Regions from separate parts of the Homo sapiens genome. Here region 1 is linked to region 2. Evidence: fine-mapped expression QTL. Tissue or cell type: tibial nerve. Region 2 holds a variant in brackets; the other region holds the start of a gene. All regions are shown on one strand. Distances are between the middles of the regions.

Region 1 (8,178 bases), 350 kb before region 2:
GGCACCTCGGGAGGCCGAGGCTGGCGGATCACTCGCGGTTAGGGGCTGGAGACCAGCCCGGCCAACACAGCGAAACCCCGTCTCCACCAAAAAAATACGAAAACCAGTCAGGCGTGGCGGCGCGCACCTGCAATCGCAGGCACTCGGCAGGCTGAGGCAGGAGAATCAGGCAGCAGTACCGTCCAGCTTCAGCTCGGCATCAGAGGGAGACCGTGGGGAGAGGGAGAGGGCGAGGGCGAGGGCGAGGGCGAGGGCGAGGGAGAGGGAGACAATGAGACTCCATCTTAAATAAATAAATAAATAAATAAATAAATAAGACCCTTGATTCTTACCTCACACCACCCATAAAGTTAGTTTGAGTGTATCATAGACCTAAACAAAAAGCCAAAACTATACAATTCTAGAAGAAAATATAGGAGAAAATATTTGCAACCTTACCTTAAGGTAGGCAATCAAGGAAAATGTTTAATAAATTGGACGCTGTCACAATTAGAAACTTTGGCTCTTTGAAAGATAACATTAGGAAAATGAAAAAACAGGTGGGTGTGGTGGCTCACACCTGTATTCCCAGCATTTTGGGAAGCTGAGGCAGTAGGATCACTTGAGCCCAGGAGTTCAAGACCAGCCTGGGCAACATAGCGAGATCTCATCTCTACTAAAGATAAAAAATTGAAATAAAAATAATTAGCCAGGCATAGTGGCGTGTGCCTATCATCCCAGCTACTCAGAAGGCTGAGGTGGGAGGATCACTTGAGCCCAGGAGTTCGAGATTGCATTTAGCTACAATTATACCACTGCACTGCAGCCTGGGAGACAGCATGAGACCCTGTCTCATGGAAAAAAAGAAAATGAAAAGACAAACCATAGAATGCTATGGGCTCTCATGCATTGCTGGTGGTAATGTCAAATAGTATGACCACTTTGAAAAACAATTTCTTACCATGCTGCCAGGCGCAGTGGCTCAAACCTGTAATCCCAGCACTTTGGGAGGCCAAGGCGGATGGATCACAAGGTTAGGAGTTCAAGACCAGCCTGACCAACATGGTGAAACCCCATCTCTCCCAAAATACAAAAATTAGTTGGGTGTGGTGGCGCAAGCCTGTAATCCCAGCTACTCAGGAGACTGAGGCAGGAGAATCACTTGAACCCAGGAGACGGAGGTTGCAGTGAGCCAAGATTGCACCACTGCACTCCAGCCTGGGCGACAGAGCGAGACTCCATCCCAAAAAAAAAAAAAAAAAAAAAAGTCTGGGTGTGGTGGCTCACGCCTGTAATCGCAGCACTTTGGGAGGCCGAGGCGGATGGATCACGAGGTCAGGAGATCGAGACCATCCTGGCTAACACAGTGAAACCCTGTCTCTGATAAAAATACAAAAAAAATAGCCGGGCTTGGTAGCAGGCGCCTGTAGTCCCAGCTACATGGGAGTCTGAGGCAGGAGAATGGCCTGAACCCGGGAGGCGGAGCTTGCAGTGAGCTGAGATGGTGCCGCTGCGCTCCAGCCTAGGCTACAGAGCAAGACTCCGTCTCAAAAAAATTAATTAATTAATTAATTAAATAAATTTTTTTAAAAAAAGACTCACCATGCAACCAAGCCATCCCGCCTACTTCCAGGCATTTTATCCGAGAGAAATGAAACATATGTATATTCAAAAAACTTTCTAGGAAGGCTCAAGTCAGTTTTATTCACAATGCCTTCAAACTGGAAACAACCCAGACATCCAACAACAACCCCGCATCCTCCTTTGGGGTCCTGAGAGGGTGCCTCCCCACCAGCCCAGCTTGGCCAACTTTAGTCCATCCATCAATGTCCAAATGGACAAACAGCCTGTGGCATATCCATACAATGGAATACTACTCACCAGTGGTAAGGAGGGAACTTGATACACACTTTAGTAAATACCTGAAATTTTAGGTTGCTTCAGTATCCATTTTGAATATAGGGTTAACAATTTCATACTAGAAGCAGGGCTTAGTCACCTTGGATACAGTTTCCAGCTCTCTGCTGGAAACAGTATCTCAACACATTCCGTCCAGATATCTGGTCCTAGGTAGCCACCTCCTGGTAACTGCCTCCTTGTGGGATGTATACATACAACCAACTAGACTCACCCCACTGACGCCCACACCCTGCATGGACTATGCAGATATGTCTCAGTGACCACCCCTAAGTCACAAGGTGGCCCCACAGGACTCCAGTTCGCTCCTCTAGGTGAACCAATTAGAGCTCCCCTTGGGAAAACTGCTTGAGTAATGCCCTGCACTCCAATAAAAGCCTCAGCCCACAGGTCCGTCTCTCTCTGGCTCCCCCCACCCCCACAACGATTGTGTACAGTGTCCCCAAGACATTCCCGACGGCCCTCAGTGTGCCCTCTTCCCCTGTGGATCTGTAAGTAATAGGACCACTTCTGTTAGTTCCTGTGTTTCGTTGTGTTGCCTGCTCTGTGTCATGCCTGACTGAGACGCTCAAACGTAACGTTTTCCCTGGTCAGGGCTTTCCCTAGAGAGCAGCTATCTTGGTAGGAATAAACTAGATACAGGTCAGACAAGAAGCACAAGGAGATCTGCCAGGATAAATATGTCTCCTGGGAGAGGGACACCCGGTCACAGGTCAGCCAGGATACAGAGGTGCCCCATGAAAGGCCCACGGCAAACACCCACGCCCAAATCCCAGGAGCCCTGTCAGGGCAGAGTTGGCCTTTACAGTGGCTCTCCAGGGAGGTCTCAAGACCAAGGTAGAGGAAAATACAACACACACACGCCACACGGGCGACGCTCAGCTGCATGGTGCCAAGCGAAGAAAGCCAGGCACAAAAGACCACACGGTGAATGGTTCTCCTTGCATGCAATTGCGAGAGAGGCAAAGGGCAGTGACAGAAATCAGAGGAGCAGTTGTCTGGAACCAGGGCGGAGGGGAGGTGAGGGGTTAGCTGCAGAGGGGCAGGAGGGTACTTTTGGGAGGAGAGGACTTCTTGAACTCGGGGGGAGACTAGCCTGGTGGTTTCGCGTGTCAGAAGTCATGGAACTGAGCCGGGCATGGTGGCGGGGCCTGTGGTCCCAGCTGCTCGGGAGGCTGAGGCAGGAGGATCGCTGGAGCCTAGAAGTTCAAGGCTGCGGTGAGCCGAGATCGTGCCACCGCACTCCAGCCTGGGCGACAGAGACCCTGTATCTAAAAAATAAAGGAAAAAATTCATGGAACTGTATACTTCCATGTACTGTACTTAAATTTCCTGGTATTTATCGTATGTATAGAATACCTCACATCTTAATAAAGTCGTCGTTTTTAGTGTGAGGGGTGCTATGGGGCACGGAGGGCGATCCGGCTGCCGACCCTCGGCGGCGGCGCGGGAGTGCGAGGCCGGCGGGGAGGTCGGGTCCTGCGGCCTCGCCGGGGCCCCTGCAGCGCTCTCCCGCCAGGGGGCAGCGTCGGGCCGGCGGCGCGGGCGGGAAGCTCCAGCGGCCGGGACGCGGTGGTGCCGTCTTCCCCCTGCGGTGAGGGACCGCGTCGCGCCACCCCGCTCTCAGCGCAGCCCGCAGCGGCGAGGCCACCGGGTGGGACACGGGTGCCCGCGCGTCGCGCCGCAGCTCGCGGGGACCTGGCGCCCCGTCCCGGGAGGGGATCTGGCCCCCGGGCGCCGGCTCTCCGTCCACGCGGCGTCCTCCCTGCAGCCCGCTAGGGCCGCTCGCCCGTCGCCGCCTGCGGAACGCGGAGGGGCAGCACGGCCACGCCCGGCCACTCGAACCTGCTCCCCGGCGCCGCGTGACCGTGTCAGGTCCCCGTCGGCCTCGCCGTGCCGACCCCGGGCGCCTCCACAGTGGCTCGGAGGCCGCTGCTGCCCGGATGCCCGGGTTCCACGAGGCTCTCCCAGCCCGACAAGCCCGCCGATCCCACGGGCACGGGCGGAGGAGAGGGAACCGCCGCGCCCGCCCCGCGCGCCGTCGCCGACCCCGGTGGGTCGCGCTTCCCCGCGCACGCCGCGCTCTGGCGCGGGGAGAGGCCCCTCGGGGTCCGCCCGGGTCAGCGTCCCGCGGGGGTGGCGGCCGTTCGCTCAGCCTCCTCTCGACTTCCCTTTCCTGTCAGGGCTGCTGGGGCTGACAGGCTCCCGGGCAACCACGCCGGGGAACCCCTCACGCCCGCCGATCGCTGCGGGGCTCAGCAGCCGCCCCGTGCGCTGAGTCCCCTGTCATGAGTGACTCCATTGCGAGGCGTTTCGGGCCACGAAGCAGGACCGGGGGCCGCACTCCGGGTCCCCGCCCTGCCCTCGCCGACCTCCCGCGCGTGGAAGGGGGACGGCGGCGGCGGAGCTCCCCGCCACGGAGAACCCCGAAATGGTCATTTCGAACGAGAGGAGTGTGGCCTGGGGTGTCTGGTTTAACAGCCCCCCGCGCCGAAAGGCTGTTCGCCGAGGAGGGGCCGCCGGGGAGGGAGCCCGAGCGCGGCGGGGCGAGACCGGTCCCCGCCCGGCGTTGCCCGGCCCGAGGGACGGCGGCGCCCCCAGGACCCTCCCCAGCGCGGCCCCAGCTCGCTCCGGGACCGCGGGGCCAGGCCGGGCGGGAGCGCGGGGACGTACACGGCGGCCCCGCCCGCGCGCTCCTCCTCCCTCCCGGCCCGCCCTGCGCCGGCGGCGGCGGCCCCAGTCTCCGCGCTGCTGAGGCGCGCCCGGCCGCTCCCACGGCCTCCCCTCCGCCCTGCGGTCCCGCCGCCTCCGGGGCCTCCTGGGACCCTGGCCCTCGCCGGGCAGGACGCCGCCAGCGCTGAAGGCGCAGCCCGGAGGCCGCGCGGGTGAGTCGGTGCGCAGCCCCAGCGGCTCCAGAGGAGCGGGTGCGGGGAGGGCGAGCGGACCAAGTCGGCCGCGTTCCCACCTTGCGCGCAGCCGGGAGACCAGCAGGCCCAGCCTCTAGGGAGGAGGGCAGGGGAGCTGGGGGCCGCCCCCCGCATTCTCGCAGGCACCTGTCCCTAGGCCGGGGTCCGCTGGCTCGAAGCACTGACCCGCCCCGGACCTAGGGGGACGGAGGCAGCGGTGACATTTGCCCAGGAAGGGCGGCAGTGGGTAAACTCCACTCCAGGGCACGGGTCTGGGCGCAGGTTGAGGCCTGGGGTTGAATCTGCTTCTGCTAGAGGCCAGTGTTCTCAGGGAGGCCCATAACCCGACTGGGTCTCAGTTCCCCCTGGTATGAAACAGCAACAGGGCAAGAGGAGGAAACCATGCCACGCTGCAAAGCTCTGAGCACGAAGCCGAGAAGAATCTCGGCTCCCGGCCTCGGGGGCTGCACTTCGGGCCAGGCCTGCACTCCCAGGATAAGAGGATGGCCTCCTGCCCCAGGGGTGGCATGGGGGCGCGCAAAAAGCAAAGGTGACCCTGCCAGGGAGCACCCAGCGCTCCGGTTGGTGGTCATGGGGTCTTTGCGTGGGACTCACAGTGTGGCCGGGAAAGTTCTGTAATGAGGACATTTCTCATCATTCCTTCTTCTCAAAAGTCATTCGTCAGCCCCAGACACCTTTGCCTCGGAAAACTGAGAACTACTTTCAAAATCGTCAACACCCCCATCTCCTGCTACAGAGCGGAGTCCCCACTTTGCAGAGGCGCACTGCAAGGTCGCGGGTGGTTAAATGGTGCGCCCTCCTTGATGAAGATGCCTTGTTCTCTTTCACTCTCTATGTGTGTTTAATGTTGTGTGTTGCGTTCTCTGTGAAGCGAAGGATAAACACGGGCCCTTTCAGGCAACCGAAGGAAGAAGGCGGCCAGCATCAGATCTTCCCGTGCTTCAAGGTGGAGCACCCTGCAGGGCTTACTGCAGCGCTCAGGGTCAAAGTGAGGATGCAGTGCGGCACCAAAAGGCAAATGGACTCTGGAGAGCCACTCTCACCTTGTACCCCTGGAGTAGACCCCGAGGACTGGAGGACTGGAACAAGATCTTAGTCCTGAGGGCGGGAGAAGCAGCCTTTGGTGGTTGCACAGGGGCCCGGCTTTTCCCGAAGTCTTAAAGCCTGCTCCAAATGCCAGATTCAGACAAAGGGGCCGAACCTTGGGCCCGCCGCCTTCTCCCATAAGCGGCAACCCAGCAGCTTTGCCAGGAAGTTTACATGTGAAGGTACGGACCTTTCTTGGAATGAGCCACACCTGATGGCCCTGCCACTCCGGACGGCGCTCGTTCACGGCTGTCCCTGGAGCAGACACGGTTCTGCGCACACACCTGGGCGCCGGAGAAACAGGGCACCCAAAGCGGGCCCAGGCCCTCGGACTCAGCGAGCTGGACACGTGTCCCCATCACCCGCGGCTGGCGGGAGCAGTGTTTCTACTCCCTTCCCTCCCCTCCTCCCGCCCCGCAGATGTGCTGTCTTTCCCGGCCTCCCCCCGCGCCCAGCACAGTGGTTTCTGCTTGGCTGTTCCCCTGTCTCTGAGATGGTCTCTCCCTGCTGCTTGCCCTACACATTCTCCCACACAGGCGCGCGGGATGCCCCTGTCGGCGTGGTTGTCAATGCCTGCTCCCCTGCCCCCCAGTCCAATCTCCACGACTCTGGGCCCTGTCGCTTCATCCTAAAGCCTTCCGCTCACGAGCCCTCCCGACGACCGACCCCCAGGAGGCTACTGGAGATGCAGGATTTGGACCCGTGCTGGACCCGCACCCGGACAGATCCCTCTGAATGAATGAATGAATTAATGAGCAGGCTGCATCCTGATTAGGTTAAGGTGGGTGGTTGCCATGCTTGGCGTTGGCTCTGTCCCCTGGGATAAAAGGCGAGAGGCAGCCACATGGACAGCTCCTCCAGTGGGGTCTCAGACTGGAGAGACGCCAGCGGGCGGGGGTCGTTCCCTGGAGCTCCCGCATTTGTTATGGTCGATGCCCCACTACGTTGTCACCTTCTCCGGAGGACCTCCTGCTCTGTCCTTGACAGATGGGCCCCAGTGGGCCCACCCAGGCTGGAGATGAATCTCAAAGGGACTCCATGCCTGGGAGACCTCAGCCAAGCAGGGCAGAGAAATAATCAGACAACAGTCAGCGCATGGCGCCTGCAGAGTTTTGCACAGGGTCCTTCAGAAGGAGGGTTAGGGAAGACTTCTTGGGGGTTAGGGCAGTTAAGCAAGATGGATAAAGAAAGCAACCACTTATGTCTGCATATTTTCTTCATTTCATCTTCACAACAGCCCTGAGATAGGTACTTGTTTTAAAGCTGAGGTATAAATTGGGGTTCAGAGAGATTGAGTGCTTTCACCATGAACAAGTGACAGAGAGCAACGACTTGAACCGGGTTACCTGATGCCACCGCTGGTCTTAACCTCCATGTTATTAGCGTATTGGGTAAGTGAAACCGTGTGAGCCAAGAAGCTGGGGTGAGAAACAGCACGGAATAGAGGAGAGGGCTGCAGAAAGGCGTGATGTTTCTGGAGCACCGAATTCTACTCACGAACACAGGAGTGGAGGCGGGAAGGGGACACTGGAAGCTATGGAGGGCCTTGTCAGCCACAGTAAGGAATGTGGACCTGGTCCTCAGGGTGGTGAGGGGATGGCCCCCCATCCAGAGGTTTCTCACAGGGGAGTGATTCGGCCTGTCTCTGCCGCAGTCAGAAGGAAGGATGCAGTGAGAGAGGGAAAGTGGAGAGGCGGATGGCGGTGCAGTCTACTCCAGGTCATGCTTCTTACCATCTCCCTCATTATTCATCCACAGAAAATGATTGCTGTTATATGACACACTGGTTAACAAAGGAGGGGGCTGTTTGCAAACAGAAACAACCAACCCAGGGCCTCCAGCCATCCAAAGATTCTGCACAGCCAGCCACCCCTAAGGCTAAGAAATCCCAGGTACATGCACACCAGTCACAGCATACCTGGACTCAGACAATGACAGTGGAGAATGAGGAACAAGAGCTGGGTTCAAGGAATAATTAGCAAGCAACGTTGGCATTACGTAGTGCAGGGACAAAGGAGGAGGGAGATAGCCCGTGGGATTCTGGACTAAATTGGGCAAATGGTATGACATGGTTAGGCTTTTGTGTCCCCGCCCCAATCTCATCTTGAATTGTAATCCCCAAGTGTTGAGGGAAAGACCCGGTGGGAGAGGATCGGATCATGGGGTGGTTTCCCCCACGCTGTTCTTCGGATAGTTAGGGAGTTCTCATGAGATCTGATGGTTCCATAAGCGTCCGTCATTTCCTCCACTCACACTCTCTCTTGCCACC
Region 2 (8,178 bases):
GAACAAATGATTTTCCAGAGAGTGGGGAGTTTTGCAAATAATTTCCCTCCATGCATTGTCTAAGGGCTAAACCTCTTAGGGACAAGCATTTAGTACAATTTTCAAAAGAGTAAAGACACTCAGTTCCACACGCCTCAAGCCATTTTGTTTACTGAGTCCAAGAATCAAAGCCACTTATTAATGAGATGGCGGTGGTCACTAGGAGTCCCTGTAGGGAACTAAAGAACGTTTTGTTCTAAAGAACATGTTTTCTGGAACAAACTCACACAGTCAGTTGAATTCTTTGGTCATCTTTCCATGACACTCATTTGAAACATTTCCATTTTTGTCTATCTTTATTCCACTGAAATCTTTTTCACTAGGATCAATTATTTTTCATTTAATTTTTTTTTTTTTTTGAGACGAAGTTTCTCTTTGTCAGGCTAGAGTGCAGTGGCATGATCTCAGCTCACTGCAATCTCCACCTACCGGGTTGAAGCAATTCTCCTGCCTCAGCCTCCTGAGTAGCTGGGATTACAGTCATGCACCACCATGCCCAGCTAATTTTGTATTTTTAGTAGAGATGGGGCTTCTCTGGGTTGGCCAGGCTGGTCTCAAACTCCCAACCTCAGGTGATCTGCCCACCTCAGCCTCCCAAAGTGCTGGGATGACAGGCATGAGCCACTGCGCCTGGCCTAATTTAAATTTTTAAATTCAGTTTTGTCCCAGTGCGTGGTCCAAAAGTGCATCCAGTTGTGCAGGATGGGATCAGAGAGTGGAACTGCAGAGAGAGTCTATGTTGGCAGCAATCAGGAAGGGAGGTGCCGCCTGTACTGGGCCTGGAAGATGGCCCTGGCAGCTCAGCTTCCTCCTTCCCAAACAGGCCCTGGGCTGGGAGAGCCTCTTACTTGTTTCTGCCTCAACTCTAGTCTCTGTGCTTCTGCATCCACACCAAAGTGGAGAGAGATCCCCGTCTCTCCAAAGGCTGGGAAGTGCCCTGGTAACCAGGATCCTTACAAGAATTGTGAAGCAAGGCAGTGCCCTTCTCTGTTACCCCCTGGGAAGCCCAGACAGCTGGTTTGGTCTACAAGGGAATCTTTGTTTTTTTCAAGATGGAGTCTTGCTCTGTCACCCAGGCTGGAGTGCAGTGGCGTGATCTCGGCTCACTGCAACCTCCGCCTCCGGGGTTCAAGCAGTTCTCCTGCCTCAGCCTCCCGAGTAGCTGGGATTACAGGAGCCCGCCACCACACCTGGCTAATTTTTGTATTTTTAGTAGAGACAGGGTTTCACCATGTTGGCCAGGCTGGTCTTGAACTCCTGACCTCATGATTCGCCCTCCTCGGCGTCCCAAAGTGCTGGGATTACAGGTGTGAGCCACCGCACCTGGCCTACAAGGGAATCTTAAACTTGACTTGCCACACAACCCTCTGGTACTCTGGCAACTCCTGTGGACTCCTCAGAATCACGTTTTTAAATGTAGAAAATGAAATACATACTCAAGGAGAAGAAATAGACTACATTGAAATACAATTCTATCCATAGACCCCTTGAATCCATGGACTCCAGGTTAAAACGTCCTGAGAGGGCAGCAGATAGTAGTTCAGAATTCAAATGAAAGAGGTAAATGTATTATATAAGGTGAATGTTTTCAGAAGGGCCAACTAAGGTGGAAAATGAAAAGCTAACCTAAGTTTTATTTATATTCAAAATTTCATTTATTATTAAACATAAAAATTTCCAGATCAGCTCTAGTCCATTTACCCCTCTCACATCTTGATATTAACCTCAAAATTCAGGTTTCCCTGGGTGACTTAAAACTCCTTCATTTGTGTATTTAAAGCATTTTGGAATTGATTTTTACTTTCAAATTGTACTGCCTCTTAGAGTAATGAATTTCGTGAGTGTACAACCTTCTGCACGAGGTAATACTCCATTTTATTTATTTAAAGCATATCTCCAGGTGTAAGATGTCCTCCCTTTACTAACATTCTAGTCTATAATCAAACCGATCAGTTATTCATATGAAGATTATAAGTTCAGGCATCACATTTAATCGGTCCCGATATGACTGTTCTAGCTCACACTCCCAGCTCTTGATCTCTTCACTTCCCCTCCTTTAGACTTTGCCTGCCTTGCTGTTTTCTTGAGGCTGAACACTCACAATCAAAGGTAATTTTCCAAATGTGGACATAGAATGTGCGTTGCGTGGCCAGGCACGGTGGCTCACGCCTGTAATCCCAGCACTTTGGGAGGCCAAGGCGGGTAAATCACCTGAGGTCAAGAGTTTGAGACCAACCTGGCCAATATGGCAAAACCCCATCTCTACTAAAAACACAAAAATTAGCCTGGCATGGTGGCGAGTGCCTGTAATCCCAGCTACTAGGGAGGCTGAGGCAGGAGAATCGCTTGAACCCGGGAGGCGGAGGTTGCAGTGAGCGGCTGAGATTGAGCCACTGCACTCCAGCCTGGGCAACAGAGCAAAACTCTGTCTCAAAAAAAAAAAAGAACGTGCGTTATGATATATTATGTCATATCATAGGAAACAGTTGCCATCTGCAAGTTAGGCAATTTGAGGAGAGTTTAATAAAGGGACTAGTACCCAGTGTGGTCACGGCAAAGCGGGAGCCCAGGACTTGCCCCAAAGGGCTGTTACTTCCCTAGGTCTGGGGGAGGCAACAATGATCAGAGCCCAAAAGGTGAGAGTCCACAGGCGCCTGGAGAGGCTACTGGAGAAGCCCTGTGACCCCTGATCTAGGGAAGCAGCTCCCCGAGGAAGCCCTGCAGGAGGAAACCAGGGGAGCAAACACGCGACCACTCTCCCCTCCCTGACGGGGATCCCTGTTTAGGGACCCCAGCTAGAGGACAAAGGACACAGGTCTGCTGAGCAGAGAGCAGGGTGGGAGAGGGTAGACAGTGGATCTGGAAGCTCAGACGGAATACATCCGGCCCGTTGTGATTCTATGCAACAGTGGGATGAATGTTACCTGTTGGTTTTGTTTGTTTGTTTTGTTTTGTGTTGAGACAGATCCTTGCTGTGTCGCCCAGGCTGGAGTTCAGTGGTGTGATCTTGGCTCACTGCAACCTCCGCCTCCCGGATTCAAGTGATTCTCCTGCCTCAGCCTCCCGAGTAGCTGGGATTACAGGCGTGCACCACCACCCCCCGCTAATTTTTTTTTTTCTATTTTTTAAGTAGAGATGGGGTTTCACCATGTTGGCTCAGGCTGGTCTTGATCTCCTGACCTCGAGTGATCTGCCCACCTCGACCTCCTAAAGTGCTGGGATTACAGGCGTGAGCCACTGCATCTGGCCACCTGTTTTTTTTTGTTTGTTTGTTTTTTTAAACGTTGTCACCTGTTTTACTTCTATTATACTTTTCTAATATGTTATGTGCAGTAGCATCTTTGCACTGAATGTTCTTAAAGAGCCCTTAATGACTTATTCTTTGCCTTGCAATGTGTCATACTAGAAATAGAACTTAAATTATTATTTCCCGAATGTGTGACCAGGCATTTACTTACACCAAAACCTAGTCACTTTTCTTACTGTTAACATAGCTTCACACAATTTCCCCACAGAACTATTCCCATCAGTTTGACTTTTTATTACCTAAAATAACTTAATATTAGTCTCACTATTTATAGCCTATTATTTTTATACTCTCCTCCAGATAATGTATACAAGCAACTTAAAGTACAATCTGGACTAATGAGGACTCTTTTAATCACTAGTGATAGAAACCCAACTCAAACTGGTGTAGCAGAGGAATTGATCGGTTCATGTTACTAAAAAGTCTGATTTAAAGCAAGACTGGATCCACGCGCTCAAACAATGCTTTCAGGAATCTGTGTCTCCAACTCTCAGCCCTGCTCTCCCCTGACTCTACCCGGGTGGCATCAAGGGTGCGTTCTGGCAGTTTCGGGCCCATGGCCTGCTAGTCTAGCAATACCAGGGGGAAAGAGGCCTCTTTCAAAACAGTGCAGCAAAAGTCCCAGGACGGAACCCCCTTGTGTGACCTGGGGTCAAGTGCCTCTTCCGCAATCAGTCACTGTGGTTGGCGGGTGGGATGTGCCTATTTTTCTGGACTGACTCATATGCCGATTCCTGAAGCTCCACCCAAACGACATGGGCTCCTGTTGATGGAGTAGGCCCTAAAGAAAAGCAGGTGCTTTCATCAGAAGAGGGGTAGAGGTTGTACAGAGAAAAATCATGCTCATCTTCTTCCCAAGGTTAGTACTGATTCCTTAGAAGAGTTACTGTTTATACTTCATCCACAGAAGACCGTTGGTCTCCATCCCTCATTCCTGGTTTCTAAGCAACTCCCCGTTTACCAGAAAACAGCACTTGCAGTCCTAGAATATGTGTAGTTGCTTTTAGAAAGTAAAAAGGTTTTTGAAAGACTTTTCATTTTGTTCTGTACCAAGAAAAATTCTTCTGCCTTGGGATCCTGTTGATCGGTGACCTTACCCCCAACCCTGTGCTCTCTGAAACATGTGCTGTGTCCACTCAGGGTTAAATGGATTAAGGGCGGTGCAAGATGTGCTTTGTTAAACAGATGCTTGAAGGCAGCATGCTCGTTAAGAGTCATCACCACTCCCTAATCTCAAGTACCCAGGGACACAAACACTGCGGAAGGCCCCAGGGTCCTCTGCCTAGGAAAACCAGAGACCTTTGTTCACTTGTTTATTTGCTGACCTTCCCTCCACTATTGTCCTATGACCCTGCCAAATCCCCCTCTGCGAGAAACACCCAAGAATGATCAATAAAAAAATAAAATAAAATAAAATAATTACCAAAAAAAAAAAGGTTTTTGAAAATGTAAATAGATTACCTATAACAAACACACACGTTTCCCCATAACAGAGTTTCAATAGAATAAAATTCCCTCTTAATAGCCTGGTTGTCTTTTCCTGTAATTGCTTGTGTTTCCTGAGGAGTTCATTACAAAGACCAGCTGACTTGTCGAGTTGCATCGCAGTGCAGAGAGCGCCGGAAGGAGAGAGAAGCTCACACTTTAGATCCAGCTCTGTTGCTCACAAAGGGCCTTGTTTGTCCATGAGTAAAATGAGG[T/C]TGGACAAGAATTCCAAAGTTGATTCCAGCAATAAGAACTTAGAGTTCTATTCTGAAATATGTATCATCAAAGAGATAGGAGGGCAGGCATACCACTCATTTAGGACAGAGAGGTTAAGGTCCTCAGCCTGCAGCCATGGGCCACAGATGGGAGGAAGAGTTGCAACCCCAAATTTCACAGGCTTAAAGAAGTTTATGTGCATTAAAGGACGCAATCAACAGAGGGATAAGACAAACCATGAGACGGGAGAAAACATTTGTGAATCACACATCTGATAAGGAGTTAATATCCAGAATATATAAAGAACTTTTATAACTCAACAACAACAAAAACAACCTCATTTAAAAATGGGCAAAGGGCTTAAGTAGACAATTCTTCAAAAAAGATAAACAAATGACTAACAAACCTACGAAAAGATGCTCAACAGCACTAATCATTAGGAAAATGCAAATCAAAATCTTAATGAGATATCACCTTATACCTATGAGGATGGCTGCTATAAAACACACACACAAGGCTTGGCGCAGTGGCTCATGCCTGTAACCCCAGCACTTTGGGAGGCCAAGGCGGGTGGATCACGAGGTCAAGAGATGGAGACCATCCTGGCCAACATGGTGAAACCCCGTCTCTGCTAAAAATACAAAAATTAGCCGGGCGTGGTGGCTGGCACCTGTAATCCCAGCTACTCAGGAGGCTGAGGCAGGAGGATCACTTGAACCCGGGAGGCGGAGGTTGCAGTGAGCCAAGATCACACCACTGCACTCCAGCCTGGTGATAAAGGGAGACTCCGTCTCAAAAAAAAAAAAAACCAAAACAAACAAAAACAAAACAAAAACAAAAACAAAAAAACATACACACAAACCTGAAAGCAACAAGTGTTAGAAAAGATGTAGAGAACCTGGAAGTCCTGTGCACTACTGGTGGGAATATAAAATGGTGCTGCCAGTATAGAAAACAGTGTGATAGCTCCCTAAAACCTTATAATAAGAATTACCACAGAACCCAGCAATTCTGCTTATGGGAATATACCCACAAGCATTGAAAGCATCCAGGGGCTGTGGAGAGGGAGAAATAAATGTTTAGTGTATGGAGAGTTCATTCTGAAAGATGAAACACTCCTGGAGATTGAACAACAGTGGGGATACACTTAACACTGTTGAACTGTACTGTTACAAATGGTTAAGATGGTAATTTTTTGTTACATGTATTTTACCACGATTTTTTTTTTTTTTTGAGACAGAGTTTCACTCTTATCGCCCAGGCTGCAGTGCAATGGCGCGATCTCGGCTCACTGCAACCTCCGCCTCCCGGGTTCAAGCAATTCTCCTGCTTCGGCCTCCTGAGTAGCTGGGATTACAGGTGCCCACCACCACACCCGGCTAATTTTTGTTTTTAGTAGAGATGGGGGTTTTACGATATTGGCCAGGCTGGTCTCGAACTCCTGACCTCGAGCAATCTGCCCGCCTCGGCCTCCCAAATTGCTGGGATTACAGGCGCGAGCCACTATGCCTGTCCTACCACAATTTTTAAAAGAACTTTAAAGCTGGAAGGGAACTTAGAGATCTTTTAGTCCAAACCCTTTGTTTTACAGAGAGGAAAACTGAGGCCCTAAGTGTTACATTATTTACACAAGAACAGAACACAGTAGCAGAGACGGAAGCTCCATCTCTCAGCGCTGCTGTGATATCTTAATTTTACATGTCAGCTTAGCTGGGCCACAATGCCGAGATATGTGGTGGGGTTTTTTAATAGAAAAAAAATGAACCCATTGACTTTTCAGAGCAGTATGTGGTTAAACATTATTCCGGATGTCTTTGTGAGGATATTTTTGGATAAGATTAACATTTAAATCAGTGGACTTTAAGCAAAGCAGATTACCCTCCATAATGCGAGTGGGCCTCATCCAGTCTGCTGAAGGCCTGAAACAAAAAGACTGCTCCCTGGAGGAAGAGGAAGTTCTCCAGCCTGCTAGCTCACGCTGCAGATTTTGGACTAGCCCACCTCCATAATCTATGTGAACCAATTCCTTAAAAATATCTCTTTCTCTGTATATATGTCCTTGAGAATCCTAACATATCTGCCTTTTCTTTTTCTGACCAATTGTGACTTTTAAATAAACATCACTTGGCTGAGTGCGGTGACTCACGCCTGTAATTCCAGCACTTTGGGAGGCCGAGGCAGGCAGATCACTTGAGGTTGGGAGTTCGAGACCAGCCTGACCAACATGGAGAAACCCCATCTCTACTAAAAATCCAAAAAAAAAAAAAAAAAAAAAAATTAGCCAGGCGTGGTGGTGCATGCCTGTCATCCCAGCTACTTGGGAGGCTTAGGCAGGAGAATTGCTTGAACCAAGGAGGCGGAGGTTGCAGTGAGCCGAGATTGCGCCACTGCACTCCAGCCCGGGCAACAAGAGCAAAACTCCGTCTCAAAAAAAATAAATAAAATAAAATAAACATCACCTGACATTTGTGTGATGCAACAGCAACCATGCAGACTTCTCTTTGGTCACAAGAGAGGAAAAGAAACACAATAAAGGAGTCACAATAAAGGGGTCACAATCAAGGGGTCACAATCAGAGGGTCACACTGTTAGCACTAATGCAGGGGTTAATATTAGCATCACTGATGGGAGAACAACCAGAATATGTCTTCCACCATGGTGCGCACGAAGCACCCAGCAGCACTTAGGATATATCCTTGCTAAAAGTGTCTAACTTGAATTAAATCAAATGTTAACATCTCATTGATCATTTATAGGAAATAAAGGACACAGAAGAACCAGCTAGAACACTGTAACTGCAGCCATAAAAATGAACGAAATGTGGCCGGGCGCGGTGGCTCACGTCTGTAATCCCAGCACTTTAGGAGCCTGAGGCAGGTGGACCACTTGAGGCCAGCAGTGTGAGACCAGCCTGGCCAACATGGCGAAACCCCGTCTCACCTGAAAATACAAAAATTAGCCGGGCATGGTGGCGCGCACCTGTAATCCCAGCTACTCAGGAGGCTGAGGCAGGAGAATCGCTTGAACCAGGGAGACGGAGGTTGCAGTGAGTTGAGATCGCATCACTTCACTTCAGTCTAGGTGGCAGCGTAAGACTCTGTCTCAAAAAAAAAAAAAAAATGAAATTATGT

The links. PIP is the estimated chance that this variant, and not a neighbour inherited with it, causes the effect.
Region 1: it holds the start of PIGZ, and the variant in region 2 is fine-mapped to the expression of PIGZ in tibial nerve (GTEx, PIP above 0.99).

The regions. Positions count from the first base shown.
Region 1 is chr3:196,965,290-196,973,467 of GRCh38, reverse strand. It overlaps PIGZ (phosphatidylinositol glycan anchor biosynthesis class Z (Gwada blood group)), which reads left to right and starts at 4,635. Exons shown (of 3, transcript NM_025163.4): 1 at 4,635-4,781. LOC124906255 (collagen alpha-1(I) chain-like) reads right to left here and starts at 4,335. Exons shown (of 3, transcript XM_047449439.1): 1 at 4,219-4,335; 2 at 3,256-4,072; 3 at 1,657-3,167. The coding sequence starts at 4,335. The coding sequence ends at 3,257. RefSeq lists silencers at 3,296-3,515, 3,526-3,845, 3,956-4,015, 4,126-4,185, 4,196-4,405 and 1 more and enhancers at 3,451-3,986, 3,987-4,522, 4,523-5,058.
Region 2 is chr3:196,616,195-196,624,372 of GRCh38, reverse strand. No RefSeq gene overlaps it. Among named protein-coding and RNA genes, the nearest start is that of LINC01063, 12 kb to the left of the region's middle. RefSeq lists an enhancer at 4,090-4,159. The variant T/C (reference allele first, on the strand shown) is at 5,047.